4 linked regions of the Homo sapiens genome follow. The protein of the gene in region 1 binds, or shares a complex with, the protein of each later gene. Each region holds a gene or a part of one and is shown on either strand. Other genes may lie near its edges.

Region 1 (8,578 bases):
CAGAGGACCCCCAAGCCTATCTCAGAATTCTCTCTTCTTACTTTGCCCATTTCCTCCACTGCTTCAGTGCTGGCCTTAAATACAAAAGGCTAACAGAATGGATACAAACCCCAAAGCAGTTCACCCTTGTGTCCTAACTTCACTACTTCCAAAACAACCATTCCCATTCCAGTGATCTTATATACCTCTCCTTCTCTGTTTAGCCACCAGTCCCATCATACCTCCACTCTCTGATTCTCGCTCCTCTTTGCTGATTTTCTCCAGAAGGTTTGAACACATTTTATTCAAGCTCTGGATCTGCTTCTGTAACACACAAATTTGTGCAGAGATTAGGGTAACTAGGAAACGATATGGAGAAATTTATTCCTTGGGTTCTGCCAGAAGCAACTTAGGCGCAACCAACTATGTATCCCTACTAGACAGGAATGGTAATGCCTAGCTTCTCATGATGGGATGGGGATGGGGCAGCAAGGCAGTGACTCAGTCCAACCTGGGCTGCATCTGCACCAATGCGGGCAGCATCTGTCGTCAGTTGCTTCTCCTGTTCTTCCACTTCAGGGTCAGGCTTGGTTCTCAGATGGTCAGGGACTACCTCATGGCTGAAAACAGGCACCCGTCCTTCAGTCTGCCGCTGTAACACACAGATTTTATTGATCCTACTCTGTACTCCAAGAAGATTCTATCTGGCCTGACATAAAGTCCCATCCACAGGCAAACAGTGCATTTTCAAGGAAAATACAACCTGAGACATAATATCTAGTTTGCTAGGACACACTCTCCTTTACTCCATCCTTCATTTTTTGTGTCTTCTCACATCCCTATCTCTACCAGACCTAGGGGCAAATTAAACTATCACTGTCTGCCACGCTTCAAAGACTGGAATAGACAAAGTCACAAAAGGGCAAACTTTGTGGCTTGAGACAGATGTTGGAGAAGAAAGGTATCAGCCTTGGTGACATACCCCTCAGGTTATTACAGCACTATTTGGGAGTGGCTCTCCCGCCTTCAGAAGAACAAAAAGCAAGGCCTCCAAAATTATTTCTAGGCTCTCAGCTAATAACTTAATTTCCCTAAATACTAAAGAAGCCTAAAAAACCCCTTAATTTCCCAAGTTGTATTCTTTTTCTCCTCTTACCATGAGATCTTCATCTCGGTCTGGAGACAACACCAGAGGAATGATGACCTGGTTACGGAACAGCGGTGTTTTTTCATGCTTCAAGACCTTGTTCAGAGTGTTCAGCTGTCCAGAAAGCAAGGCAAAGCTGTCCAGGACAGATGGCCTGGTGGTGGTAACAAGGTGTAAGAATGTTGTACCCCTTCCCTGGGTGGTTCTTAGTAAAATAGTCCTAGTTCCTTCAGGCTAGGAACACTTGGATTCACCTCCAAAAGTCTCATAGCCCTATGACTAGCCTAAGTGGGAACAGACTAACAGGGATGACAGGGCTATGAAAGAGGGACATAGTTTCAGTTTATGAAACAGACGTAGAAAAAACCCAGTTCATTGTTTGAATGGGGTGAGGAACAGTGGCAAAATAGGAACCAGGGCTACACTGTTATAACTAAAACTTCAGAAACCGGGTAAAAGCCTCCTTTCCAGCCTGGAAATAAGATCCACACTTCAGAGTAGGTTGGCTCTAAAAGACTCAGCCACATCTGTGGCAAGAGATCCAGCACGAATAGAGCTGTAGTGGGAGGACCTCCTCACCAGAGAAGTCAAAGGGTAAGAATTGAAAGCTAGAAAGAACTTGGGTTAGGAAACTGAGCATTTCTCTACTTCCTTGCCATGGAATCCACTTGCTAAATGTTAGGAAACCCAGCTCTTTCCAAATCAAAAGATGTTTGCAAACTGATAAATGGTTACATCATTAGAAATGTCCTATTCATCAGGAGGCTAGGCCCCCCCACCCATAAGCCCTTCCTAGCTTGCCCTGGTAACTCTTACCAGGTCAGCCGGCCATACTCGTTCTCCAACTTGCAAATGAAACTCCCCAGAGAGTTCTTCAGATCAGCCACTTGACTCAGCAGTGCATCTAATGATGCCTCAAGCTGCTTCTCCTCTCTCTGCACCAATAGGAACAGGTTGGTCACCCAGATAAACGAGTATGACACATAGAAAGGAGGGCTGGAAAGCCAAGGAGATGGTGTGCAACACCAGTCAGGTAACACAGGATCTCATTGGCATAGGATAGCCAGGTTGTTTTCTATCTTTGGTATTTGGGTTATAGACAGCATCAACCCTGAGACCTTCCAACCTGTTTGCCTGACCCCAAGTCCTTCCACCAACTGATTCCTTTTCCCCATCACCTCCTAATCTATGCCTGGTTTTTCTCTGTGTTAGGTACACCCTACACTCCCTCACTGAGACATTTTCGACAGACCTAATGCCAGGAGATCATTCTCTCATGTGCACCTCTGTAGCACATGCACTCCAGCTTCCTCCATCCTAGCATCTGTGAGCCTGGCTGTCTTGTCAGTCTCTGGGAAATCTGCCTACTCATGAAGACTTCTCTGAACACCAGTCCTGCTCTCCCCTTTCCCTCCCCCAACCAACGACTCCAGCTTTCCATCTGCTCTCATCATTTTGTTTCAACCTTCTCCTTGCTGAATTAATATGCAATCATCTATCTCTGTGTCAATATTCCCGTGCCTCTTTCACAAGCTCAGTCAACCCATTAACATTTATTGAGACTACCAGCTGCAAGAAACTAAGTGACAAATGAAAAACAAAAACCACACATGCTTCTAAGCACTGGACAAACAAATTAAAATGCTGGGGGTCTGCAAAGCATTTCCTTCCCATCGGTGGTCTCCTGTTTTACTCCATTTCTTCACCCTTAACAACTATAGGGCACAGGCTGGGAAGAGGGATGCAAAACTGTCTTGCAAACCTGCCTGACAGAAACTTGATCCCGGGTTCCACCATGGCCTCTGATTATAAGCTGCTTAGCTTTCAGCCATCGCGGCCCACAATTCCCTCACTGCTTGGGCTTCTTTCCAATTAGATCCCCTGCTATATCGGCAACCAACAGCCTCCATCCAGCAGCTTAGGACAGGGCCTGAGCCAACCCACCACCTTCTTGAGCCGTCTTCCTTGGACTGCATCTCAGCCTCCCCGTATTACAACCTAATCCTTTCCCACGCCAAGCAAACAGGTGCTGCCTCCTCCCTCCGGATTTAGCCCGACTGTCTCCTGTCAGGCAAGCTCCACCCCCACCTCTAATCGCCGCCGCTCCCGCTCCAATTAGCCTCGCCCCCCAGCCCACATTCCCTTATCAGCCGTGGGTTCTGCCCTCTCTTCTCAGTCCCAACTCTTCATTCTCCTTAGCCAGCCCACTCTCGGTCCCTGTACCCGAAGCTTGCCAGCCGCTAGTACGCCCAACGCAACTCTCACCTGCATTGCGGCGGCCGAGGCGGCTGCCACGATTTCACTTCCGGTTTTCCAGTCAGCAAACGCCTACGAGAAGGCTTCGTCCACCAATCAGAAAACTGGAACTCGGCCCTCCCACCAACTTCCGGTTCCTGCTGGGTGCCGAGGTAGCGAGGTCAGGGGTCAAGAGTGGAACACCCTCACTGGCCCGGGCCGGCGCGGGAGGGCTGTGTGATGGCCTCGGAGCGCCCGGAGCCGGAGGTGAGGGGCGGGCGGGCGCAGCACTGGGCCCCGAGATCCGAGGGGGAGGGTCCGGCGGGCAGGCGTGGCGTTGGCCTCCTCTAGGTCTGGGGGTGGCCGGGCTGCGTAGCCTCGGCAGGGACCAGCCCAGCCCGGAAGGCCCGACTATGGTACCCCTGCGGACTGTGTATGGGACGCGGTCCGCAGTTTCCTCGGGGAGCTAAAGGAGTAACTGTTCGCTTTGTTTTGTTTACTGACATGTCACCCGCGTCGTCGTCTCTAAGACTTATAGCGGTGTTAACAAAACTTGTATTTTGACTTTCTGTTGCAGTTTCAATGGGCAACACGGCAGTAGATTTACTTTGCTGGTTTTTGCATTTCTTTAGGCATTGGAATACCATAAACAGCATGAATTTATTTAGTTCTAGGGCTCATGCTTTTAGAAAAGCAGCTTTAATTTCATGAAAAAAACATTTGAGTCGGACTGAGACCTCGTTCCAATATTGGCGCTGTCATGTAGCTAATCTGTGCAACCTCAGGCGAGTCTTCCCGGATCCTGTTTCCTTCTTTATAAAATATCTGTCTTATAGTGTGTTGTGAGAATCACATGTAATAAACCAGAAAGGTGATATGATATATTCGTTAAATGCTAAGGAACATGCAAGGAACCTTATATATGTTGTGTCATTCAGACTTGTGCAAGGAAGGTGGCATTCTCACAGAGGAGAAAACTGAAAAATGAGAAAGATTTAGTACCTTACTCAAATGCCACTCATCCAGGAACTAGCAGTTTGGAGTTAGAAGATCTGAGCTTAAAATCTCAGATTCGGATAAAACACCACCACCAGGAAAGGTGCCAACATATCAGTAGGTGGGAAGGGTGAGAGATGTGTATAATGATAGAAATAGTATTCATTACTGCATACATACTGCATGCTCAGTACCATTCTAAGCTCTTTACCAATATCAGTTAATCCTCAGCCCTATGAAGTGGACACTGTATCATCTCCTTTTTTTAGTTTAGGAACTGAGGCACAGAGATATTAAGAGTAACAAAGTAAGCCGGGCGCAGTGGCTTACACCTGTAATCCCAACACTGGGAGGCCGAGGTGGGCAGATCACCTGAGGTGAGGAGTTCGAGACCAGCCTGACCAACATGGAGAAAGCCTGTCTGTACTGAAAATGCAAAATTAGCCAAGCATGGTGGCGCAGGCCTGTAATCTCAGCTACTCGGGAGGCTGAGGCAGGAGAATCGCTTGAACCCGGGAGGTGGAGGTTGCGATGAGCTGAGATCATGCCATTGCACTTCAGCCTGGGCAACAAGAGTGAAACTCCGTCTCAAAAAAAAAAAAAAGTAACAAAGTTACACAGCTATTAAGTATTAGAGTCAGGACTCCAAAACAGATGGCCAGGCTCCAGTCCTTGTGTTCTTAACCATATTGTTCATGGTATAAGTAATAAAGTAGCCACAGAATGGTAAATCTCCAGTTCACTGGGATTTGGTGTGGTAAGACCCAACATTGAATATGGTGGTAGGAAACTATGCCTTATTTAAAATAGTCATGTTCACAGAGGTGGTAGAATAGCTCATGCATCAGAAATATCAATCAAGATCAATCAGAAATATTAACACAAGAAAAACTATGAAACAGTTTAGAGGATGTTTCATTATAGATTAAAGTGAAAGGAGGTGGAGGGATGTTGTGGGGAAATGCAACATACCTTTTAGGCAGATAGTCTAGGACAACACCGTCCTGTAGAAATCTAAAGCAAGCCACATGTGTAATATTAAATTTTCTGATAGCCACATAAAAAAATGAAACAAGGCCGGGCGCGGTGGCTCACGCCTGTAATCCCAGCACTTTGGGAGGCCGAGGCGGGCGGATCACGAGGTCAGGAGATCGAGACCATCCTGGCTAAAACGGTGAAACCCTGTCTCTACTAAAAAAAATACAAAAAATTAGCTGGGCGTGGTGGCGGGCGCCTGTAGTCCCAGCTACTCGGGAGGCTGAGGCAGGAGAATGGCGTGAACCCGGGAGGCGGAGCTTGCAGTGAGCTGAGATTGTGCCACTGCAGTCCAGCCTGGGCGACAGAGCGAGACTCCGTCTCAAAAAAAAAAAAAAAAAAAAAAAAAAAAAAAAAAAAAAAAAAAATGAAACAAATGAAATAAAATGTAATTATATATTTAACCCAAAACTCCCAAAATTTTCAAAATGTAATAAAATACAAAACATCGTGAGATATTTAACATTTTTTTTGGTACCAAGTCTTTAAAATCTAGTGTTGTATTTTACACTGATAGCACATCCCATCTTGGTCTAGCAACATTGTAAGTGCTCAGTAGCCCCATATAGTAGTCTTTACCATATAGAGCAGTACAGATCTAAAGTAATTTCAAGTCAAGACACACAATCCTGGGAGTCTCAGCCAAAAGTTAAGCTTTTTTTTTTTTTTTTTTGAGACGAAGTCTCGCTCTGTCGCCCAGGCTGGAGTGCAGTGGTGCGATCTTGGCTCACTGCAACCTCCGCCTCCCGGGTTCACGCCATTCTCCTGCCTCAGCCTCCCAAGTAGCTGGGACTACAGGCGCCTGCTACCATGCCCTGCTAACTTTTTGTGTTTTTAGTAAAGACGGGGTTTCACCGTGTTAGCCAGATAGTCTCAATCTCCTGTCCTCGTGATCCGCCTGCCTCGGCTTCCCAAAGTGCTGGGATTACAGGCGTGAGCCACCGTGCCCAGCCTAAGTTAAGCATTTTTTAACTCCCTGATTTGCATTTCTGAAAATTTTATCAGAAGGTAAAGAGATTGAAGAGTTCTGCCCCTGGGTGTAATAAAGTTATTGACTTTTAGAGGCTGTTAGGATCCCAAGAGAGAAAGATTGGGTATAGTCAGATTTAGGAAATCATTCATTCATCACACACTTGAAATATTTTACGAGTGCTGGTAGGAGTCAGAATTGTGCTAAGTATCAGGGTGGATACAGAGCCGTGTAAGACAGACATGCTCTCTATCTTTATGGAGTAAACAAGGATTGAATTAGGATAATAAGTGCTGTAAAGGAGTGAATTAGGGTGTTTAACAGTGGTTCTCAACCTACCTTGTTAAGAAATGGGGAGGCAAGGGGTTGTGAATAGGAAGACTCAGAAGAATGACATTTAAGCTGAAGCCTGAAGAATAGGTAGAAGTTTTCTAAAAGAAGAGGCAGAGAGCATTGCAGGCAAAGGGAATAGTGAAGATCTTCAGGTGAGAAGGAGCCCAGTGGAGCCTTCAGAGAACTAAGAGGAAGCAACTCCTTGTGTGGATGCAGTTTGACAATGAGAATAGCTAGCACTTACTGAATGCTTACTGAGTATCATCTGATACTCAAAAATTATCTGAAAATAAGCACTTTTATTATCTGTGTTTCACAGATGAGCTAACTGAGGCATAGAGAGTGTAAGTCTCTGCCAAAACTATATAGTTAATAATCAGCAGAGCAAGCATTTGATCCTAAGTGCTCTAACACTGGAATACATGCTTTTAACTGCGTGGGGATTGGTGAGAGATAAGGCTGGAGAAGATGCAGCTTGAGGCCATGCTAGAGGCTCAGGACTTTGATGTATAGTGGTAAGAAGATTTTAGCCAGTTCAAGAGGGGAAATAATCCACATTATTTTGTGGGAATGTGTTAACAAAAGACAGCACAAGGGTTAGAAAAGGCTGAACAAATCAGACCTTAATCACAAAGGGACAGGCACAAAAAGACAAAGCAACAAATTAATGAGATGGACCATGCTTCATTCTTCCTGGTATACATGGTATGCAGCACAGTGCCTGGTAATGTTTTATTCATCTTGGTATAAATGGTATGTAGACCTCAATAAATATTCCAAAGAATGATAGCCTTCCTCTCCTGTTTAATTGCAACGACATCCCTATGAAGATATTCTTATCCACATACTATCAATAAAGAAACCGAGGCTTGGAAAAATTAAGTAACTTGTCCAAGGTCACCTATATAGCAAATGATAGAATCAGATTTGAATCCAGGTCCCTGACCCCGAAACTCTACTTTGTCTTCCTTGCCAGACTACTCTGAGAGTAATGAACTTCAGACTCAAGGAGGATTCATATGAGGACTTGAAGCTCCATGTGAGTGTGGATGCTCTGAGAACTAATTCAGGGATTCTCAAATGTTAATGTGGAAGAATCACTTGGAGACCTTGTTAGAATGTAGATTCTGGAGCCCATCAACTCTTTTTTTTTTTTTTTTTTTTGAGATGGAGTCTTGCTCTGTCGCCCAGGCTGGAGTGCAGTGGCGTGATCTTGGCTCACTGCAACCTCCACCTCTCAGGTTCAAGCAATTCTTGTGCCTCAGCCTCCTGAGTAGCTGGGACTACAGGTGTGAGCCACAGCACCCAGTCTGGAGCCCATCAACTCTTAATTCAGTTGGTCTGGGGTGGTGCCTGGGACTCAACGCTGTATTTTCATAAGCACTTCAGGTGATTTTTCATGCAGCTGGTCCTTGGATCCCACTTTGAAAAACACCATTCTAGCTGCTTAAATTATTAAGTCTTCTAGTTATGATAAATTACATCTTGAAAGTGAAGAGAACTTAGAAATGATGTTTTGAAAATATAGTTGTTGGGCTGGGCGCGGTGGCTCATGCCTGTAATCCCAACACTTTGGGAGGCTGAGGCGGGTGGATCACCTGATGTCGGGAGTTTGAGACCAGCCTCACCAGCATGGAGAAACCTCGTCTCTACCAAAAATACAAAATTAGCCGGGCGTGGTGGCGCATGCCTGTAATCCCAGCTACTCGGAAGGCTGAGGCAGGAGAATTGCTTTAAATCCAGGAGGTGGAGGTTGCGGTGAGCCGAGATGGTGCCATTGCACTGTAGCCTGGGCAACGAGAGCGAAACTCCATCTCAAAAAAAAAAAAAAGAAAAGAAAAAGAAAATATAGTTGTTGACTTTGAAGGATCATATGTAAAGGG
Region 2 (6,430 bases), on another chromosome or scaffold:
CAGCTTTCCAAGTGGGGCCAAGGGGTACGCACGCCTTGGCTGACCTGGACTTAACTGGCACTACAATAACCTCATTTAGCAATAAGGGCTTTAGGGTGATGTGGTTAGTGTTTTCTTTATCCTCTTTCTCCTTTCATTCTTTCACTTCCCTAACTCCTCCCATATTTTGTGTAAATGCTAATTCTTCGATCAAATTCCTTATTCCTGTAATGTTTGTAGTAGCATTTTTTTTTTCATGGCTACATTCCATTGACTCTACCTCACACTGACATGTTTTGCTACCAGAAGTGGTAGCAGAGACACAGAATCTTAAGGATGGAAATCTGGAATTTGTTCTCTGATCTGACTGGATTAAAAAGCAATAATGTTTCCATTGCCAAGGTAATTGACAGTCTATGGTAAAAGTTACTTATCACTTGTAGTCACTTGGTTTGTTAACTAATGCCCAGACACAGGGTTTACTTATATTAAATCAAAGTGAAATGCCAGAATACCCTTCCTTGGTATACAGGGAATGGTATCAAGGACATAGAAATTTTGGGGTGAAATTATTATACATAACTTACTCACTCACATCCTATCTTCTCTGGAAGGATCCAGAGGACACTCTCTTCATTAAGGCTTTAAAAAAAATCATCGGCAGGAGGTACCATTCTTGAAAGGCTCTAATGGCCAATATCACAGGTCAGGAATGATAGTAAAGGATACTCCCATTGAAATTGGCTCCTGGCCGGGTGCAGTGGCTCATGCCTGTAATCCCAGCACTTTGGGAGGCTGAGGCGGGTGGATCACCTAAGGTTGGGAGTTCGAGACCAGCCTGACCAACATGGAGAAACCCCGTCTCTACTAAAAATACAAAATTAGCCAGGCATGGTGGTGCCTGCCTGTAATCCCAGCTATTCGGGAGGCTGAGGCAGGAGAATCACTTAAGCCCGAGAAGCTGAGGTTGCGGTGAGCCAAGATCGTGCCATTGCACTCCAGCCTGGACAAGAGTGAAACTCCATCTCAAAAAAAGAAATTGGCTCCTTAAATTCAATGAAGATGACGGGAGTTAGGATGTAGTTAAGGCACAAGTGGACAGATTTAGCATCCAGAAACAAAGAGAGTTTGGTTACCATAACTGGCAGCAGAGCAAGATGGTAATCAAAATGGTTTCACCCACAGAAATCTTTAGGGTTAACTGATAGTGGTGCCCCTAGAACTGAAATAGAGAAGCAGGATATTAAACTTTTCTTAACATATGAAAAAAGCAAACTGTAGGTCTAGTGAATAAAGGTCTATTTTTAATTACAAGCCACAGCTTCTTATCCAGTTTTTAGATTTAAATCAGCTTAGATCATTGACATTTAATTATTGCTGTATTAATGAAATAAAATAAAATTTAGGTTTACTATTGTTTTATTCTGTTTCTCGTTCCTGGGTTACCTGAATCTTTTTTAGTATTCCACCTTAATTTATTAATGCTTTTGAAAATAATCTGTAGTTTTTTAGGGAAAAATCTGTGTCGCTCTAGGGATGATACAAATACTTAATTTCTTATAGTCTACTGTATAGTATTAATATCTTGAGGTTAGCAGTTTGGCATTAGCCTGGGCAACAGAGTGAGACCCCATCTCTAAAAAAAAAAGAAAAAAAAAATTAGCTGGACGTGGTAGTACATGCCTGTAGTCCCAGTTACTGAAGAGGCTGAAGTGGGAGGATCACCTGAACCCAGGGTGAAGCTGCAGTGAGCCATGATCACAGAACTGCACTTCAGCTTGGGTGACAGAGACTTCACCTTAAAAAAACAGAAACAAGAACAACAAAAAAAAACTGTATATCCTCTACAGAGAATCACATACAACAACGTTAATTTTTTTCTTTCAAATAACAAATGTAATTTTTAAAACCTCAAGAGAAGTCTATTATATTTACCCTATACATTATGCCTTCTTTATTCCTGCCATTCTAAGTTTCCTTCTGCTATAACTTCCCTTCTTTTTAAAAAGCTTCCCTTGAATTCTTTTAGAGCAGGTTTACTAGTGATAAATCCTGTTAGTTTTCCCTCATTTGAAAAATGTCTTGACCTTTTCTCTTTGTACCTTTTTGACTCCTTTATAATACTTAGGTACTTTGAATAAGTTTTCTGACTGAATCTTCTCTCCCCCCAAAACTATAATGAAGAGTACAGATTTATGCCAAATATCTGATAGCAAAGTGTTTTTAATAAACATCAATTAAAATACAGTTAAAAGTTCAAAAATTTTCTATGACTAGCCAATAAATTGCTGCAACTTTTACAGCTAACGCTGGTGTTCCTGAAATTTGAAACATAGTACTTTTCAAGAACTGTGGAAAAGCTTGATTACAACAAAAATAACAGGCAGAGTGTTCTATTGTTCCTGTTTTCTCCTGAAACTTAAACTCTGAATAGCAACAGATTGCAGCAAATGTAGCTCAGCATATTCTGAAAAATACAGCCCCAGGAAATAGCTAGTTAAAATGTGGACCACATTTCAATTCCACCTTTCCAGTGGAGATTATCAGTAGACTCAAAGAGATCCAAGGGTTGGATGAATAACCATAGTTGAAAATGCTGACACAAATTATTATTTGGCAATAATAAACTGAGGTGAAATGATGCCAAGTAACTGATGTAGTGGAAGTATGTTCTGGTCTGACTAGAATACAGCAATAAAAGTTGAGAGGTTAATAAGGGCAAAAGAACCTTCAGATAAATGGAGAATGAGAAAGAATTGATGATTCAAAAAACATACTTCATTGTGATGACAAGCAAATTAAGGATGAAAAAAAGCAAGGTGAAAAGAAATAGGAAAAATAGTTCAGGATGTAGAAAAATTCTTTCACAACAGCCAGGAAATTCTCTTGACAGAGGATCTCTTGGTAAAATAAACGTGGAGATGAACTAGAACAGGTATGAGGTTCTAGCAGAAGAAACATTTGCATAAATGTGACTTTCTTATCCAGCCACACTAACTCTATTTCTTAAAAGCAACACAATTTCCAAAACTTTCTTGCTCAAAGCTCAGATTTACACAATGCCACCTCTAAGAGGCAGGACACTAGCCCAAACTAAAATGTCCCTTATGTCTGTTCTTACTGTCTTCTCCTTTGGCTTGAGAGATGTTTTGATTTGTAAAAGTACTGGCCAATACAACAAAATGGAGACATAAATTATGTCATAACAGAATTTTACATATGTTTCCTTATATTATGTTCATTAATGTATTACATGCCTTAATAATTTCACTCAGTTAAAAAATGATGGTATGATGCTTTAAAGCTGATTCAATCATGATTTTATAAGCTTATCAAGAGTGAAAATAGAAGACTATTAAAAATAGCTAAAAAGGTAATGTGTCATAGTGTTTAATGTTTCTGTAATTGTTGGTAAGGCTTGTATCTAAGTCTGATGCAGAATTCTTAATGGCACTCAAACAGTTCTTTTCTCAGCCACATGGTATCCACTGATGCTATGAGTCTGGAAGAGACTGGCTATGGGTACCACTTCTTGTCTTCAGCTGTGACTGTGCAATATCAGCAAGTGCGCTTTGTATCTTCTCCAGAAGCATGTCTCCTCGATAAACAACATCCTCCAGACATGTAGCAGCTTCATGGTTTTCTTCTTCTAGCTTATACAAGCTAGCAGCCTTTATAAGACACAAATTTTAAAATCTTTAGAGTTTAGAAAGAGAAGCTGTCACAGATGTACTTATTTTTAAATCTGGATGACTTTGCAATCATTGTGATATGTTTTTCAGTAAAGAAATTCTAAAAATCAGACAACTTTTAAGAATTTTCCCCATGTGAATTATTAAAAAGAATGACTTTTCAATTAGAGATCTCTAGATATCTTTAAGTGACTCCCTTACACATTACGTTTAGACACCATTATTCTACTCCAATTGTAGAATGCCACCCTCCTCTCATTCTTCACTAGGAAAAGAGACAAAATTGAGGAAAATAAGAGGTTTCCTTATAATGGAAATTTGAATATTATAACAAAAGGTGCTATGATTTGAATGCATCCCCTCCAAAATTCATACATTAAAATCTAATCCCCAATGTGATGGTATTAAGAGGGAAGGGGCCTTTAAGAGGATATTAAGTCATGAAGGCAGAGATCTCATAGATGGAATTAGTACCCTTAAAATATGGCTTGAGGTTGAAGAGGGAGCTCTTGCTCTTTTGCCCTTCTGCCTTCAGCCATGTGAGGAAACAGGAAGAAGGCCCTCAACATGGCCCTAAACATGGCACCATGTTTAATAAAAATTCATTACTCATGCACAGTGAGTAATAAATGCCTTGATCTTGGACTTCCCAGACTCCAGAACTGTGAGAAAATAAATTTCTGTTCTTTATAAATTACTGTCTCAGGTATGTTGTTATAGCAGCACAAATGGACACAGACAAAAGGTACTAAATCTACCTCCTTTAATTCAAAATTCTCTATTACTGGTAAAATTCTCAAAGGAATAGAGGCTTACCTGTAAAGCAGCTGTAGATTCTTCACTGGGTAAGGAATCTATCAAAACATCAATGTCTTTTGCTGTTCGTGCAATCAGTGCTGCAAAAAGCTGGGCATACTCTAGAGAAAGATACTGCTAGATTAGGATATTAGAAAACCTCAAGTTTTCAGAAACAAATTTTAAGTTAATGAAACCAGAAACTTCATATAGCTTTTTCTGCCCTAAGATTCTAATGATTCGGCCAGGCGTGGTGGCTCACGCCTGTAATCCCAGCACTTTGGGAGGCCAAGGCAGGCGGATCACGAGGTCAGGAGTTTGAGACCAGCCTGACCAACATGGTGAAACCCCATCTCTACTAAAAATACAAAAATTAGCCAGACGTGGTGGCATGAGCCTGTAATCCCAGCTACTCAGGAGGCTGAGGCAGGAGAATTCCTTGAACCCGGGAGGCGAAAGTTGCAGTGAGCCAAGATTGCATCACTGCACTCCAGCCTAGGTGACAGAGCGAGACTCCGTCTCAAAAAAAAAAAGAAGATTCTAATGATTAAAATATACACCAATCCTGTTACACATTTAGCTCAAATTGGGAATTAAGCATAATGTATGTAATTTCATTTATTATGACAATATAGTGGTCACCTGAATAAAGAAATTTATAAATGGGATGCCTTCCTTGTTAAGGTCCCTCACTCAGCTAAATTAATACAAATTCTCCTCTAAAGGAGTAACAATCTATTATCTGACATGAACCAGAATTATGAGATGTTAGGTGAATTGACTGTAAATTTTTTACAACAAACAAAACTTGTAATATTCTCAAACAACAATAATTTTAGAAATAAAATAAGCTGAATTTCTCAAGAAATCTAATTTTAAAGGATTACAAAAAATGTGAGAGTCAAACTAAGAGAAGCTAAGAAAACCTGTTTACCTTCTGTAGGGTTAGCTGGCTGGTCTTTGTTAATTGCTGTCTGAATATTATTGAAAGAGGCAGGAGGACCACATTGCTGCAATACTCCAATGGCATTACAAAACTGATCTGCAAGCTTAGGCCAAAGAAAACATATCAAGGTTAGAAAGGACTTATCAGTTTTAAGGACTTTATTGGTAATGGCAACAACAATAAGTTTCTGTAATGATAATCTCTGAGCAAGGGAATAAAACAGAAAGGAGTGATTGTTGATAAAATAAGCCAGTTATTATTAATGTTGATTAAACGTTTTAATTCTGCAAAGAAACTAAGTTTGGTATCAATCTAGGTAAAGTTAAATTTGATATAAATCTAGTTGAAACAGTTGAAATACAAAATAATCTTTCTTTTCTTGTGATAGTAAAATGATAAGAGAATATTGGCCAATACTTATTGTAAGCCACAAGTAAAGACTTTTTGGGGATAGTGATGGAAAAGAGCAAATTTGACTTGTAAATATCTATGGCACCATGTTTAATAAAAATTTATTTCTCATGCACAAAGTATATGATTCCTTTTCTGAGACTGGAGTAGTTACAAGTGTAAAGAAATAGTGAGGAAGAGGCTGCTCAGAAAAGCACCTTAAGTAAGCAGAAATGTATTTGTTCAAGACTCAATTTGTAAACTCTTGTACTCTAAAAGTATTCCTTAAGTACTTTTAAAGATTGGGAATAGCAATTCCTTACCATCTCCAAATTAAATACACCTATCTTCCCTACCAATTTCTCTCACCTAGTCTTGACCTCTCAAACCTCCTATTTCTAATAAGTATTTCCACTGGGTTTCTCTGCCATTGTTTCAATGACAGAACTCAAAGGCAACTGTTTCCTCTTTTTAATATTTAATTTGTATTGAAAGTCTCCTAGTCAACCAATCTAACTTCAGATTCTTACTTTCCTTTGATCTTCATATTCTGCTAATACTACAAATCTTTCTCTTTTCCTTCTATCACTGTTGCTTAGTTCAACCAATTATCTCACACCAGAATTAT
Region 3 (7,814 bases), on another chromosome or scaffold:
TTTTATGGAACTGCTGCCAAGTGAGTGGTCCCTGCACATGCTGGATGTTCTCCCAGGTCCTGCCCGTGCGCTTCTTTTGGATGGCATCTTGGAGAAAGGGCTGCAGGGACAACAGCATACGAACCACATCCTGGGAGGAGAGCATGCTGATGTCCAGCACTGGAAGAGAAGTGAGAAGAAACAGAGAAGATAAGGGGGCTAGCACCCTCCTCTTCCTCACCATCACCTCGAGCCTCAGTTATATTCAGAACAATGACGTTATTAGCTGTAGTAGATTCTAAAATATTTGACTTAGGAGTCAGGAGGAAAGATATTCTTCTACTAAATTAGAGAAAATAATTGATAATTTAGTATCAACAATAATAAAAGGGGAAATGGATTACTCTATATAAAAAAGTTTAATGGAAGAATTGTTTAAAAGTGGAAAAATGGATAGGTGCGACTTTTTAAAACCATGGAAATCTGTTTCCAAGGATTTTCATAAGACAGCTGCAAAAGTTTCTTAATTATTACTTTTATTTGCAAATATCAATGTTTTGTTTATATGATAAGTAGGAAAAAATGGAACTTAAATAAAAGCTTTTAAAAACTCTTTAAATGCTCCTAATTGTAAAAATATTTTCACAAAATACAGAATGCATGAAGAGAAGGCCAATCTTCAGTGCAGCCAGAGGCACAGGGAAACACAGCTGAAGCCCTCAAGGACCGAAGTCCGCTGCAGGCACGGATGGGATTCACTGCCTTCTAAATGCAGATGACTTTAGTCCCAGCAGTCGCCCTGGGGAGGGATTTCTAACCTAAAATTTGAAAGTTGTCTGAACTCCATGCAAAACTGTGCAAGCACGCTTGGACATACGTATTTTTTTCTCAGGATGGAGGGTTCATCATGCAAATCAGATTCTTAAAAAGGTCTGCAGAAAGAGCTAATGACGCTGGAGGTGATGTGGTGTGAATCTGCACAGCTGGATTCCTGAAGACTCTGCCTCCCTCTTACCCTTCTAGCTGATGAGGGAAGGGGCATGGAAAGAAATCTAAGATTTATCTGCCAACTAAATTTGAAACACAGGATGATTAAGGATTCTTAAGACATTTTCAAACGTGTCCCTAAATCAGTAAAACACAGGTTGCAAAGTGGTGGTCCACAGAATATTTTGTTAAACTTTGGAACAAATCACTCCAGGAAATTTCACACACAAATCTAGATTGCCAGCTTCCCTTGAACTGGGAGACCCATATTCCTGCATAACCACCACTTGCTGGAGCTGAGGAGCAGCTGTCCCTCTCAGGCACCTCATGGCCCCTTCCCTGCTGTCTGTCCTGAGTCTGATGCAGTTTTCATTGCCTTTTATCTTCAGCCAGTGCTTCTTTTTACATATAGTAAACAACAACAGTGAATACTTCTTGTATTAATGGCTCTATCAAAAGCAGGAAATCACAGACCAAGAGAACCACAGATTTGAGGAAACTAAAAGCAAGCACGTTTCTTATGAACCCTATTCCTGTGCCTGCAAAATAGAAAGTGAGTTTTGAAAAGACAGCTTAAGGCACTGCCTTTTGCAAATGTCTCCCATCACATTCATTTACATTATCTGGTACTTTTAGGCATCTTAAAATTTGAAACCCAGACCTCCCCTGCAATAAAATGTCTTATTTTTCATCCTGAAAGACGACACCACTGATTCATGCACACAGACTGCTTTTCTGTCCGAAGGCCTATCTAGTAAAAGGACTCACCCAAGCTGATCATCCACATTTCTTTAGGGGAAAGGCTGCATTTTCTTCACTTCATAAATTCATTCAGTAGAAACTGATTAAGGGTCTGCTTAAGTATAAGGCACTGTGCTTGAACCTAAGCAGTTATACAAATGAGCATAACCCTTTAATGCTTTCTTAGTCATCTCTACCTCCATGAAAGCTTCCTTGATTGGCCTAGTCAGAAAATACCCATCACTCCCCATACTCTACTGACCTCTGGACATACTTTTAATTACTTCAGATTTCAAACTGTATTTAAGAAGCTTATATAACTTTCTTCCCTGCAAGACTGAGAGTTGTTCAGAAGCCGGGTTCGCACATCATTCACACAACCCTTCCAGTCTGGCCTCTGCTCCCACCACTCTACAGAAACAGCTCTCACCACGGTCAGAAGACATGTTTAATCCTTATCTTAAAATCTTCACTTGCATTTTAATGCCTGTCAATCACTTCCTCTTTCTTGAAACACTGGCTACCCCTGGCTTCCAAAAGCCCCCTCTATGGTTCTTCCTTCTCTGCTTGATAGGCTCACGCTTCTCTGCCTCACCTATACCCGTCAGAATGTAGCTAAGCTCTACCAGGTCCTCTTCTCGTCTATACTTTTCTCCTCCTCCTCAATGAGCTCATCTGTGCCCCCTTAATTGAAGTTATCACCTATATGCCAACCACTCCCTCTCCCCTGAGCAAAAGGCCCAAGAGTCTACTTGATACCTCTACCTGGATATATCAAAAGGGATCTTTAAAACTTCCAAACTTCCACAACTCAATTTATAAACTTTCTCTCCAGATATAGTCTTATCTTTGAACACCACTGACTATCCAGGTATACAAGTAACAAATCTGGGACTCCTCAACATCTCTCTTTCCCTTATCCCCAAAACTCAACTCACTATTGAGTCCTGCAATAATATTTCTTCTCCACCTTCTTCACAAGGACACTAAGGCAAGCTATTGTTTCTTACTAGGTCTTCCTCACTAACCTCCTTGTCTCCCCAAATCCATTCCTGCCACTTTCTAATCCATACCCAGAATTATAGCCAGTGCACATTGTTATTTTTCCTTTTTAACTACACAAATCTGACATCAGTGCTTCTTCTTAAAACCTTTCAATGACTTTGTATTGCTTTTTGCAGGAAGACCCAACCCCTAGCATGCCTCTAAAGAGTCACTGTAATCTAGCCCCTGCATGCTTCTAACCTCGCGTCAGTTTCTAAAGGCCCCAAGCTCCATACAACCAAGGGCCTTCCCACTTGCAGCACCTCCTGTCTGGGACACATGCCTCGCTCCCCATTCTCCTTCCTCAGTTAATGTGTACTCATCATTGAGATCTCTGAGCAAATGTTACTACTTCTACAACGAAGTCTTCTCTGACCTTCAGCCTAGAGTGCCCCGTCTATCCCATGCTTTTATCACTTATAAAATGGGTTGTAATAATATGCGTGCTTGTGTAATTATTTAATTGATGTCCACTTCCAGAATAGATTAGAAAGTCCATGAGGGTAAGTGCCTTGTTTCTTTCAGTAACCATTTTATCCCCCATGATGCATTGCAGTTTAGGCAGTGAATGAGTAAGAAAAGGAAACAGCAAGTTGCTTGGCACTCTTACAGCCCAACTTCACTGGAGCTTTTAATAATACAACCAGTTATATGCCCCAGTAACCACAATGCAAAGTAAAATGTGATTTTGTTATAAGTGATACAACAAAGGGGGAAAACAGAGAAGGGAGAAGAGACTCTGGAAATGGCTAGAAGGCTTCATGGAAGAGGTTCCTTGGAAACTTGATCTGGAAGAATGGTGGATTTAAGCATGCAAGAGTGTGCAAATTATCAGTCTGTAAGCTCCTGACGACTCTGATACTCAGCGGTCACAGGTTCCCAACATAGACTGCTTACTTATGAGTTACAAGAGGAAAATTTCAGAAAACAATTACTCTTCTCCAAAGGCATTTCAATATAAAACATTCTCCCAGTCCATAAGTTTAGGATAAAATCAATACAGCTCTCACTTTAGGTTCTTTTTTTTCCCCCGAAAGACATGAAATTAAAATTTTTTGTCAAATACAGTAAAGAAAGCTTTTAAGTTATGATCATACCAAGATACTCCTCAAAGTAAATTTGTGTTCTGGGACACCTACCATTGCTGTGAGGCCAAGAGTGCACAGTGGCACTTCTCACCAGAGCTTCGTCCACTTTTCCACCAGTGGGGTTATCCACATACTGCCGCCCCTGCTCCAACGCATTAAAGCATTCCGTCCAGTAATCATTATTATCTGCTTGCACCCGGTCATAACTCCAGCTTACACAGGGAAGAGTTTGGCGATTGTTAGAGGAAATGTAGTCCAGGAAATTCAGTGAAGCAAAAGGTTGTGTGTGTTGATTCTGGAGGAGGAGGAGAAGGCTTATGGGTGGCTCCTGGGGTTTTTTGGTTCCTTCCACCTGAGGAAGGAAGGTGGACTGACACATCATTAAGCGCCTCTCTGCAGCCTGACCAATATCAGAATTCTTCCCAAAAATATCCAACTCATCTTCAAGGAAGAGTCCTGAATTGTAGCCAAGTTTGCGGTTCATAATCGCACTAAACCCACAGGTACAGCGGTACTGGTCCTCATTGGAAGAATCGGGGATGTAAAGCCCGACATCCGCCCCTTTGATGTTCATGTTGCAGGCACAGATGCAACAGCTGTCAAAGTTTCTGTCTTTAAAGATATTCATCACGGAATCGGAGAGAATCAGGGTAACATAGAGGCTGTGGGCTTCGGGAATTGGCTGCATGGTGGCGGGCTCCACAGAGTTGAGGGGCCGTGTAGTAGAGGGGGTGGAGGCTGGTGATCCTTGATCGGTGCTATCATACTTAACAGACCCTTGACCACTGGCAGTGCCCCCACCTCTGGGAGTTCTTGGGGTCCTGGGGGTTCGTGGTGTGGGGACAGAGAAGCGAGGGGTTGCTGGAGATGGTAGGACTCCTGCCCCACTATTGCTGGCTGGGGCAGCGCTGTTCAACGTCACGGGTGTGTTCATCTGTGGTGTGTTCAGATAGTCTGGATCTGCTAGGCTCCCAACACTAGGCACGTTACTACAAAAAGAGAAGGCACCAAGTGAGGAAGGGCAGCATGTCACAGATGCTGAACTAGACACATGATCACCCCAGCCATGTACTGTGTATTTCTTATCATTTGTTTCTGCTATCACTGGGATACACTGGTATATTTAATTTTCTCTTAAAAAAAAAAAAGAAGATACAAAGGTCAGTGCAGTGTGTAGAGAAGAAGAAAGTAAGGTATGAAGAATAATTCAACACAGCACTTTCCTTCTACTTATTCCACATATAAGCATCCTCATCCTAACCTCTTGAAGGAACTTTTACTATTTTTATAAGAAAACATGGTACTGGGTTTGGTCAATGTAATTTGAAAAGTTAACTACTAAATGGAACTTCAACCATAAGTGCAGACACTAAATTAGCTAGAGGACCATAGGATGAAATTTCCATCTAATTTGCAATTACATTTTTGTCATTTTTTTTTTGAAATTCAAAGTCTGCCAGTGTACTTGTTCTCTGAGGCTATAATCTATATATCATATCAAAGTAGTTATAATCAAATACACATGAAAATTTAACATTTTTCTAATTTTCAAAATGCAGCCCTATCTAGGCTTACATTTTTATAGTAATGAGTGACCATGAGGGAATTATATTTTAGGTAGCCCATTTACCAGTACTATACTACAACTGATAGAAATATTACATATGCGGCTAAGAGGCCTCAGTATTAATTAGGTGGTTGCACAGAAGTACACATACTGTATCAGAGTTTCCAGCTTCCAGCAGCTTTCTGTGGGGTGGTAAGCACTTCATTTTTCACTTTTCAATATGGTATGCATTGCATATAGTGTAATTATTTTAGTTGCCCAAGACTGACTGGGCTATGTTATCTACTTTCTCATAAGCAGTGACTTCTTTTTGGAACAGCTAGGCAGAAAACACTGTCTGCAAGGTTCTGCTGTTTCATTATCATAAAACATTTTCTTGATATACAGTTGGCCCTCTATAGCCACAAGTTCCACATCTGTGGATTCAGCCATATACAGATGGAAAATCAAAATAAAAATACAATTAAAAAAAAAACAACAGTTAAAAAACACAAATCAAAACAGTAAAGTACAACATTTATATAGCATTTACATTGTATTAGGCATTACAAGTAATCCAGAGATGACTTAAGGTATACAGAGGGATTTGTGTAAATTACAAGGAAATACTCTGCCATTTTATATAGGGTACTTGAGCATCTTCAGATTTTGGTATCCGAGGGGGTCCTGGAATCAATCCCCCAAGGATACCAAGGGACAACTGTACTTTCTTAGATGTATATGTATATTAGCATATGAGTCCATTCTTCCTACTTAGAAGGTATCAAAAGAATATTTTTAAAATTTTTTAATATCCTTTTATATATATTAATACTGTACTTAAACTAATGCTCCTCCAATAAACTACATATTCAGTTACTTATAATGTGAAAGAAGCACGTCATAAAGAAATGTCTCTTCAAATAATTTCCTTGTGATTTTTAATTAGCTATGCCTAAACTACCAGCCTAAAAGTCCAAATCAGGCACTGTAAAGAAATATTAAATCTGAGGCACAGTGGTATCTTTGAGTACAGATAAAAAAAAAAAAATGACCCAGAAAACTTGATTGGCAATCACTGCTCTCTTAGAGACCAAAATAGTTAAGTGTGTAATAACGATCTTTACTCTAACTGGACTCCTTTCAAATTCTCCTGTTCAACAAAACCCTAAAATTATTACGCAGTTCAGATCAGAAAAGGAACTATGAGTACTAACTGAAAACCTAAAGAATTAAATTGCTCCCTGGGTAGTAAGAATGGTTTATCTTGTAATCTGATTTTTCCCATTTAATAAAAATGAACTGAGTAGCAACCCTACGCTAGAAGCTGGATAGTCAAAAGTGAAAAAGAGAAACAAAAGGTGGCTCATAAGCAAGTATGGCAGACATGAAGCAAATGATTGCAGGGGTATTGCATGTGACAAAGGAGGAGTCCAGGGTGATGGCGAGCAGAGACCACAGCAGGATTACACATATGCTGGAAACATACTGTCCAATAAGGTAGCCACCAGTCCCCATGTCCTAAATTTAAATTAATTAACATAAAACAATTCAGTCTTGGTCTCACTAGCCACATTTCAAGTGGTCAACACCTGCAGCAGGAAGCTGATGACTGCCATAGTGGACAGTGCAGACAGGAATCACCTACATGCCAGGTGCAGTAGCTCATGCCTATAATCCCAACACTTTAGGAGGCCGAGGCAGGAGAAACACTTGAACCCAGGAGTTCAGGACCAGTGTCGGCAACACAGGGAGACACAAACTCTACAACAAAATTTCATAAAAATTAGCTGGGTGTGGTGGCACGTGCCTGTAGTCCCAGCTACTCAGGAGGCTGATGTGGGAGGATCACTTGAGCCCAGGAGGTCAAGGCTGCAGTGAGCTGTGATTGTGCCACTGTACTCCAGCCCAGGTGACAGAGCGAGACCCTGTCTCCAAAAAACCCCCCCAAAAAACAAAAACAAAAACAAAAACAAAACCTTCATCACATAAAGTTGTATAATAGAGCCAGTTAAGAATACAAAGAATCTTTGGGATGGCAAATGAAAGATGTAATAGATCTAAATAATGACCTAAATGATTTAAACGATTACACAGCAAAAGCTTGCATGTGACCTTTTTGGGGAAACCTGTATGTATGAAAGAGATTAAACTGCTGAATGGGTTCTTAAAACTGCTATGTCATTTATTGGCAACTGTATGTGCTAAGCTAACCCCTTATGCGCCAAGGTGTTCTAGGTGTGTTGTGCCAGGATCTAGCTGAGTAAGCTAGAGTACAATCGGAGCACAGCAGCAGCACACCAGCCAGGCGCTCAGGGTGCTTTTCAGCACACTCTTTATACTGCTGGTGCATTGTTATTTCCACGGTACTTCTACAGTCATTAGTCGTTGAAGCATTGTGGAAGTCCTGTGCGGGAGGCAGAGCAGGA
Region 4 (7,814 bases), on another chromosome or scaffold:
TAAAAATAACTAAAACTGAAAATACCAGTAACTTTGGCAATAGGATTATTGCCTTATCTTGTCCACCATCATCTTGCAGCTTCAGGCCCTGCCACTAGTGGAGAATCACTCAGGGAATTTCTGCAAAAAATGCATCCAAAGGTAGCTGTTTGAATGACTGCCTTAAACAGCTCCTTGAATAAAGTATTAACTTTTTCCAAATTGTAACATTAACTTATGAGTAGCAATCCATAAATCTATCTTGTTATATAACAATCATTTTTCTAAAGAAACAATTAAGATGGATGGCATTTCTTTATTTCCCTTCTGACTTTTTCTCCCTGCCCCAAATGAACTGATACACAGTGAGGGCTGAGAACCACTGAACTAAATGAACACATCTTACTTAAAACACACACATACACCCCAATAACAACAAAAAAAACCCTCTTAGCACAGGTGATTCATTTTTAGCAAAAATATATTCTTATGTGCCATGGACCTTAGGGTCACTTAAAAACCAAAATTCTTTATCTTTACAATATCAGATCATTCATTGAAATTTTTGAAAATTGCTACTGAAATTTATAAAACAGGACAATAGCCAGCAGTGAAAAAAAAAAAAAAAAAAGATGGCACAGAATCAAACTGACATGAAACTACTATAGTTCTGAATTCTGCCCTGAATTTCAGATGAACTTACCTAATTCTGTCAGCTTTAAATTTATGGTATATGACCATATGTTGAGAGATACCTGTAATATACCTCCACTGCATTAGGAAAAGTTACTAATCAGATTAGTGATTTTTTTAAATGAGACATTCTCAATCAAATCACAAATTTAAAAAATAAAATTAACATGGATCATGAAGTTTTGGAAGAAATGTTTTAAAAACTACAAAACAACATAATCTAAGAAAAATATAGTAAGTATGATATATGATTAAATGACATCAATAATTAAAGTCTACAAAGTACCTGTTTGGAGGTGGTTTTGGTTTTGGCATCTTACTAAGAATGGTTGCCATCTCTTTTCTCTCATCGAAATTCTTCCACTGCTCATATAGTTTTAAAATAACCCTGATTATTTCCAAAATCTAGAAGAAAATATTTGAAAAGTTCTCAGTGGCAAAAACAAGCAACATTTTTTATATAAAGAGCATACATCACTACACAACCCTCAGAAAACAGTAAATAGTCTCTGTCCTTAAATCCTGATAAATTTGAAAGCAGTATTTTTCACCACAGTGCTGTTTAGGATTTTCCTTCTAGCATCTCATTTTTCAGCATGTGTGCATTGTCCATTCTTATCTATCTCTGCAGCTGATTTCCTTCCATCTGATGGTATCTTTTAAACTGAAACATACTAAGAATAAAGGTTCTAATCATGAGGGAATATACCACTATAGAGCACACTCCTCTAGTATAAATTATTTTAAACAACTTAATCGGGGGTAGTGCACAAAAGATGTTTTGATTCTCTGTTACTACACATACATTAAGGTGCTCAAAAACTGGCAGCTACAAATTTGAAACAACTAGTTAACAAATTAGCTATTTTTTTCCCACCTGAGTAGAACCTAACCTTAGGATTAATTTTAATGCATTTAACACTTGAGCAGAAAAGCTAGAAACACAGCAAAAGCCATTCTGCCAGGAGATAGGCTATGTTACAGAAGTTCACAGTAGTATTCAGTGGTTACCAGGGAGCTTTTAAAATAATCCTGGGAATGAGAGGCTACTTTGCAACCAATTAAACCAAAAGTTTACCATTCTGTTTAATCCTAAACTGAAAAGAGATACATAACTTAAATAATCAGCATTAACTCTTCCTACCAAACTTTTTTTTTTTTTAAACGGAGTCTCGCTCTGTTGCCCAGGCTCGCGTGCAGTGGCACGATCTTGGCTCACTGCAACCTCTGCCTCCCAGGTTCAAGCAATTCTGTCTCAGCCTCCCGAGTAGCTGGGAGTACAGGTGCATGCCACCACACCCAGCTAATTTTTGTATTTTCAGTAGAGACGGGGTTTCACCATATTGGTCAGGCTGGTCTTGAACTCCTGACCTCAGGTGATCCGCCCACCTAGGCCTCCCAAAGTGCTGGGATTACAGACACAAACCACCATGCCCAGCCCATGTTTCTTAATATTTTGTAACCAATAATCTTCTTAGCCTGGTGGACATCACAAGATTTTAGGCTCATGATAAGTAAATATGACATTAATTTTTAAACATCCAAGTTTACATACAACTAAGGGAATACCTTTTCCATATCCACAGAAAGCTCAGCAAACCATTGCCTGGCATCTTTCTGCTGTACAACACAGGCTACATGTAGGCAAGCTGAAATGAAAATGAGAGACAACTGTCCATGTTTAACTGCAAACACAGAATATATGATCTAACAAAGATTTTTCACTATTTCCTGTGTATTTTCCAACACTCTTTAAAAAACATTAAACAGCTACATATGAGAGTTACCACTGACCATCTCATCAATGTAATCCGAGACAGAAAAAATTACTAGATTACATCAAGTTCTTGACATCTGGTCCTCACTGCGTGCTAGTCATGGTGCAGTTGCCTTGAGAGTCAGGCACGTTAAAGAGGAAAAACATCCAATGAGGAGAGCAGAAAAGGGAAGTTATCCCTGAGTAGTGTACAAAGTAGCCGTTAAACTGCACCCAGAAGTCAGTGTGACAAAACAAAACAAACAAAAATGTTAATTAATATACTAGGTTTTAACAATGTTGACTGTGTTTCCACATTTCAGTTAAAAGCAGTGTTGCCTGGCCTTTTTTCTTCCTTTTCATTATTAGCACATGATCAAGTTATGTGAAAGCTGGGCACATCCTTACAGAATTCAGTGTTGTAATCAAATAAAGGTTAGAAAATAAATGTAATATACTGTATACAATATTAGTTATATATGTTATATACAATATAAACTAACAAAAGAGAGGAATCTACATCATAATTTTGCCTAAAACAATTTCTACTGAGCAGCCTGTATACCCTTAACCCACTCCAGCTTAAGTTATACTCCGTGGTCTGGTTATCCATGTCTTTGCTAAGGATGACATTCTAGGCAAATAGCAACTCAAATGTGAACTGACACACTGGTTGCCCTAAGTCAAGCAAAGCTATGAGTAGGGCTTAGGTCAAGAAGAGGTTAAAAAAAACCAAATGACTGACATGATAAAAACAGGAAATTAAAATACAGTGGACAATGCTATTAACATGGGCATGCATAGAGTACACTGAAGATTGAGGAAGCATCCTAAACCCAGACTGAGGTGATGCTGAAAGGGTGGGGGAGGGTCACTGAAGAGCTGATATCTAAGCCAAGTCTTACAAAAAAAAAAAATGAGAGTGGGAGAAGAGAATAGTATGTATATCAATTGGGAGACGAATTTGGCTAGCTCCGGGTTTCTCAATCTTGGCACTACTGACATCTTAGGTTGAACAATTCTTTGACACTGTCTTGAATACTACAAGATGCTTGGCAGCATCCCTGGCTTCTACCCACTAGATGCTAGTAGCACCCTACCCTAGTTATGACAACTAAAACCAAACATTGCCAAATGTCCCCTCGGGGCAAAATTATCCCCAGGTGAAACCACTAGCCTAGCTCAACAGTTTGGAAGATAGACAGGCTCTCTGAGGATGGGAGTGCTGGAGGCTAATAAGCCAGTTAGGAGACTGCTGTGGTAACATGGATAGAAATGAGAAGATGACTATGAGATTACAGAAGGAACAATCGAGAGGAAGGCACAAAATGTACTGGTAAACAACTACATGTGGGTATTGAGGGAGATGAAAGGGCCTAACTGCTGGGTTTCCAACTAAGGTATATAACTAGTGCTATTCACCAAACTGGCAAAGACATTAAAAGGAGGAACATATTTTGGGGCAAAGTGATAAGCTCAATCCTCATCATGAGTCTGAGGTGCTGGTGGGATGCCAAGCGGAGCTATGTAAAAGGAAGATGGATATAAAGAACTGCCAAGTGGCAAGATCTTGGCTAAATAAAGAGATTTAAATGTTTCGGCATGTAAGTGATAGTAGAAGCCATGAATCTCAGTTAAAGTACCCAAGAAGAAGACAGCAGGGATGGCAAAGATGTGACACATGTTCTGTTATCCCTTCCTTCCTACCTATGCAGATCCCAGTATTCCTACCCACTGGGTAGGACACCACTCAAAATCCTTTCAAATCCAGTCCTTTCAGGGAACTGCCAGTAATACAGAAGTGTAAGTATAACCTATTTGTCAGCCCTGATGTAAGAAGGCCAAGAAACATCAACATTTAAGGAATAATTGAACAACTGAACAAAGACAAACCAATGGAAAATAAGAGGGGAAAATCAAGAGGATGGAGTTATAAAAATCAATAGAAGGGGCTGGGGTGCAGTGGCTCACGCCTGTAATCCCAGCACTCTGAGAGGCCAAGGAGGGTGGATCACCTGAGGTCAGGAGTTCAAGACCAGCCTGGCCAACATGGCGAAACCCTGTCTCTACTAAAAATACAAAAATTAGCCAGGTATGGTGGTGGACACCTATAATCCTCCTGTAGGCAGGAGAATCGCTTGAACCCAGGAGGCAGAGGTTGCAGTGAGCCAAGATCACACCACTGCACTCCAGCCTGGGAGACAGAGTGAGACTCCATCTCAAAAAAAAAAAAAAAAAAAAATCAATAGAAGGAAAAGGAACAAAAATTAACAAGTGCCCAATATATAACAGGCATTATTTGGTGCTCTACAACCTATCTCATTTAATTCTTCAAACGGCTCAGTGGAATTATTAGTATTCTCTCCATTTTACAATTAAGGAAACAAACACGGAAAGGTCAGATAATTTTCCCACAATTGTAAAGGAGGTAAAGTTTAAGCCTAGGACTATCTGACTCCACCCATTACAGCACTGCTTTCCACAGACTGTAGAATGAATGTACTTAACGTCTTCCTCCAGCCAAGCATTATGGACCACAGATGCTCCTTTACTCAACCTCTGAGTATTTGTTTGGGCTCAGGATATGAAAGCCCCAATTATTTTACATGCTACAACTAATATTAGCTGGCTTAATTCTGAACTTTTCCCTCTAAACAAACAAATATGTTCTATTCAGACACCGATTAAAACTATTTTGAATGGTTTCAAAAAAAAAAAAAAAAAACTTACCAAAAAGGGGGTGGGGGAATAATAATCCTGATTTATGACAGTTGCAGTTCATATTATTGAAAGCTCACATGCAAGGATTAGTCTATTACTTCATGGAACATAAAAACATAAAGTACAATAGGGTGAAATTTAGTTTAGGATGACCTAAATAAGTTTATAACAATTTAACTCATAAAGGCACACCATGCTTACATACCTAAAGCTATCATGAAAGGAGGATACAGTAGGCAAAGATCCGTTCTGTAGGTATCATTCACTATCCTCCTATAGAAATGTAAATCATATTATTACTGAAAGCAGAACTACCTCATCTGATTGTATATTTCCTCCAGAGAGGGCCAGATTTCCCATCTTTGCACACATTTATTTCCTTTTATACTACTGAAGCACAGCTATAAAAGTGAAAACATCAAGGCAAAAGGATGGATACATGAATGTGACAACAAATAAGCACATATCAATGAATAAAATTACAGCTAAATATATTTTAAATTTCAAAATCTCATAACAAATTATAAACACATTTTTCTAATTTTTTAAAAATCAGAAAAATCAAATTAAAAAACCAGAAATTATACAGTAAATTTATATGTATGTTGCAGACTACCAAAAAGTATTCTGATTACTTTAAAGATAACTTCAGTCTTAATTTTTATGTTAACAGTCTGTGTTTTGTATAAAATTAAATTTTAATAGGTATATTTATGGAACAGATAATTTAGGATTGTTTTCATTTTGGCATTTACACCACTATAGTTATTAAAATTCAACAAGTGGTATTTTGCTCAACATAAAATATCTTGGGGCAATAGTTTAATGACTTTAAAAATACTTAACTTCATATTTAATTGTCAACCTTCCTATCTAATAACATGTTACACTATTAATAACTTCTGTTCTAATTACCATGCAAGGGGAAGCAACATGTCTTCTTGGCCCATGTCCTGCACATACTGGAGCAAAGGTCTATAAGGATGATACACTATCAAGCAACAATCCTAGAAACAGTTTAAAAAATGTGTATGTATAAAAAACAGATTTATTACAACACAAAAATGTTATCATTACCCAACTGATTTGTAATTGTGTATTTCAAAGTGAATTTCACTAACTCATGCTTGCTTCCCTTTTATTCTCTTAAGCTAGCAGTATGACAGCCCTAAACTCTACCGTAATAGTGAAGGCAGTGCTCTCTCTGGAATATACCTTGATAAATCGGTTGGCAGTCAGTCAGCATCCATTCATTCCCTTAGAGACTCAAAGTGTCACATCTGCAACACACTGAAACCTCTTATTAGCCTATAAATTCATAATTCCCAACTGGAGGAGCAGAATTCTGCCAAAGACATAATCTATCTTTAAATAACACTGCACGCACACACAAATTGTGCACATAATTTATGGTGGTTTAATGTCCTGACTTGTCTGTTTGTAATCCTTTCATTATAGTTACTTACTATAGAACAGAAAAATTTTCCCATCCTAAGTAGGATATACAAATTATTTTACAGGCTTCAGAGAGACTCTAGGTGCTAATATAAATAGGCTACCATGATTTCACCATCACATATTAGGTGGATGGTTTTAAAATGTACCTCTCTAAAATCATTTCTTTAAATAATTTCCAACTTCATTTAATTTAAAAATGTTTTAATCTATTAATCACAGAAGATTTACTTACCATTAGTTCTAACAGATAGAATTCACATTCTAATATCTGTTTAAAACAAAGATTATCAATGAAATGTCAATATGAAACCAAATTAGATAAGTCCACTTAATCTAACATAAATTACAGACATTATAGTAATTTATCAAAAATTTTTACTAAAAAGTTTTAAAAATCCAGACAATAAACATAGTTTATATTAAAATAAATATCTGCAATAAAAAATTACTATTAGAAATGCAATTATGATTATAAGGATTTTAATCCTTGTAAGGAAAAGCCAGCTTCTCACAATCATTCTTATTACTCACTTTTATTTAAAATATCCTGTAAAACCATCAGATTTTCCAGTATACTTTCTACTCAGCAAATGCAAAAATACAATTATTTCTACTTAATTTAAAAAATGTAACTTAAAGAGAATAAACAAATCCCTTGCAAGGTGGAAAAAGGACATACCTATTAAAATGTCAATAGAAATTCACCTTATATTTCATATTGTTCCATTAGTTTTTAATCCCAGCTAAATAGTAGTATCACCTGGGACCTTTTACACAGTACCAATGTTGGGAGCCCCAAGGCTGAAAATTCTGATTTTGTTGTTCTGGAAAGGATCCAACATCAGTATTATTTACAAGTTCCCAAGGTGATTTAATGAGCAGCCAGGGTTGATAATCGCCACTATGAAGTATTTTTTTTAAATGGTAAAAGCTATTTAGCTTTAATTTAGAATAATGTCTGTATTTATGTAATATTTGAAACTGCCATTTCTAGGAAACTATTAAATTTAGTCTAATATAAAATAGAGCTAGTTTATATATAGCTTTGATAATTGTTCCATTTTATATCATATACTTACATGATTCATCCTATAAGGAAATTCCTTTGGAAAGGCATATGAAAATCTAGTTTTTACTGCAGAAAATAAAAAAAAAATTTAAACTGAGAAAATGGGAAATAAATTAACTCAAAATTCCTTTAACAGAG

The links.
Region 2: MED8 (region 1) and MED21 share a complex: the UniProt entries of both Homo sapiens proteins name them as parts of the mediator complex.
Region 3: MED8 (region 1) and MED13L share a complex: the UniProt entries of both Homo sapiens proteins name them as parts of the mediator complex.
Region 4: MED8 (region 1) and CCNC share a complex: the UniProt entries of both Homo sapiens proteins name them as parts of the mediator complex.

Annotation. Positions count from the first base shown.
Region 1 is NC_000001.11:43,386,368-43,394,945, forward strand, and holds the start of MED8 (mediator of RNA polymerase II transcription subunit 8), read right to left. Parts: upstream 3,434-8,578; 5' UTR 3,398-3,433; coding exon 3,392-3,397; intron 2,123-3,391; exon of another isoform or gene 2,062-2,122; coding exon 1,943-2,061; intron 1,281-1,942; coding exon 1,136-1,280; intron 632-1,135; coding exon 491-631; intron 304-490; coding exon 222-303; intron 1-221. Other genes in the region: KICSTOR complex protein SZT2, read left to right, coding at 3,602-3,628. UniProt on the Homo sapiens protein: Component of the Mediator complex, a coactivator involved in the regulated transcription of nearly all RNA polymerase II-dependent genes.
Region 2 is NC_000012.12:27,025,505-27,031,934, reverse strand, and holds the end of MED21 (mediator of RNA polymerase II transcription subunit 21), read right to left. Parts: intron 5,516-6,430; coding exon 5,401-5,515; intron 4,589-5,400; coding exon 4,488-4,588; intron 3,651-4,487; coding exon 3,474-3,650; 3' UTR 1,262-3,473; downstream 1-1,261. UniProt on the Homo sapiens protein: Component of the Mediator complex, a coactivator involved in the regulated transcription of nearly all RNA polymerase II-dependent genes.
Region 3 is NC_000012.12:115,987,130-115,994,943, forward strand, and holds part of MED13L (mediator of RNA polymerase II transcription subunit 13-like), read right to left. Parts: intron 4,829-7,814; coding exon 3,891-4,828; intron 160-3,890; coding exon 1-159. UniProt on the Homo sapiens protein: Component of the Mediator complex, a coactivator involved in the regulated transcription of nearly all RNA polymerase II-dependent genes.
Region 4 is NC_000006.12:99,544,154-99,551,967, forward strand, and holds part of CCNC (cyclin-C), read right to left. Parts: exon of another isoform or gene 7,743-7,814; coding exon 7,687-7,742; exon of another isoform or gene 6,876-7,686; coding exon 6,840-6,875; exon of another isoform or gene 6,440-6,839; coding exon of another isoform or gene 6,416-6,439; exon of another isoform or gene 6,157-6,415; coding exon 6,065-6,156; intron 5,423-6,064; coding exon 5,355-5,422; intron 5,247-5,354; coding exon of another isoform or gene 5,236-5,246; exon of another isoform or gene 5,159-5,235; intron 4,232-5,158; exon of another isoform or gene 4,144-4,231; intron 2,322-4,143; coding exon 2,242-2,321; intron 1,078-2,241; coding exon 959-1,077; intron 121-958; coding exon of another isoform or gene 69-120; exon of another isoform or gene 1-68. UniProt on the Homo sapiens protein: Component of the Mediator complex, a coactivator involved in regulated gene transcription of nearly all RNA polymerase II-dependent genes.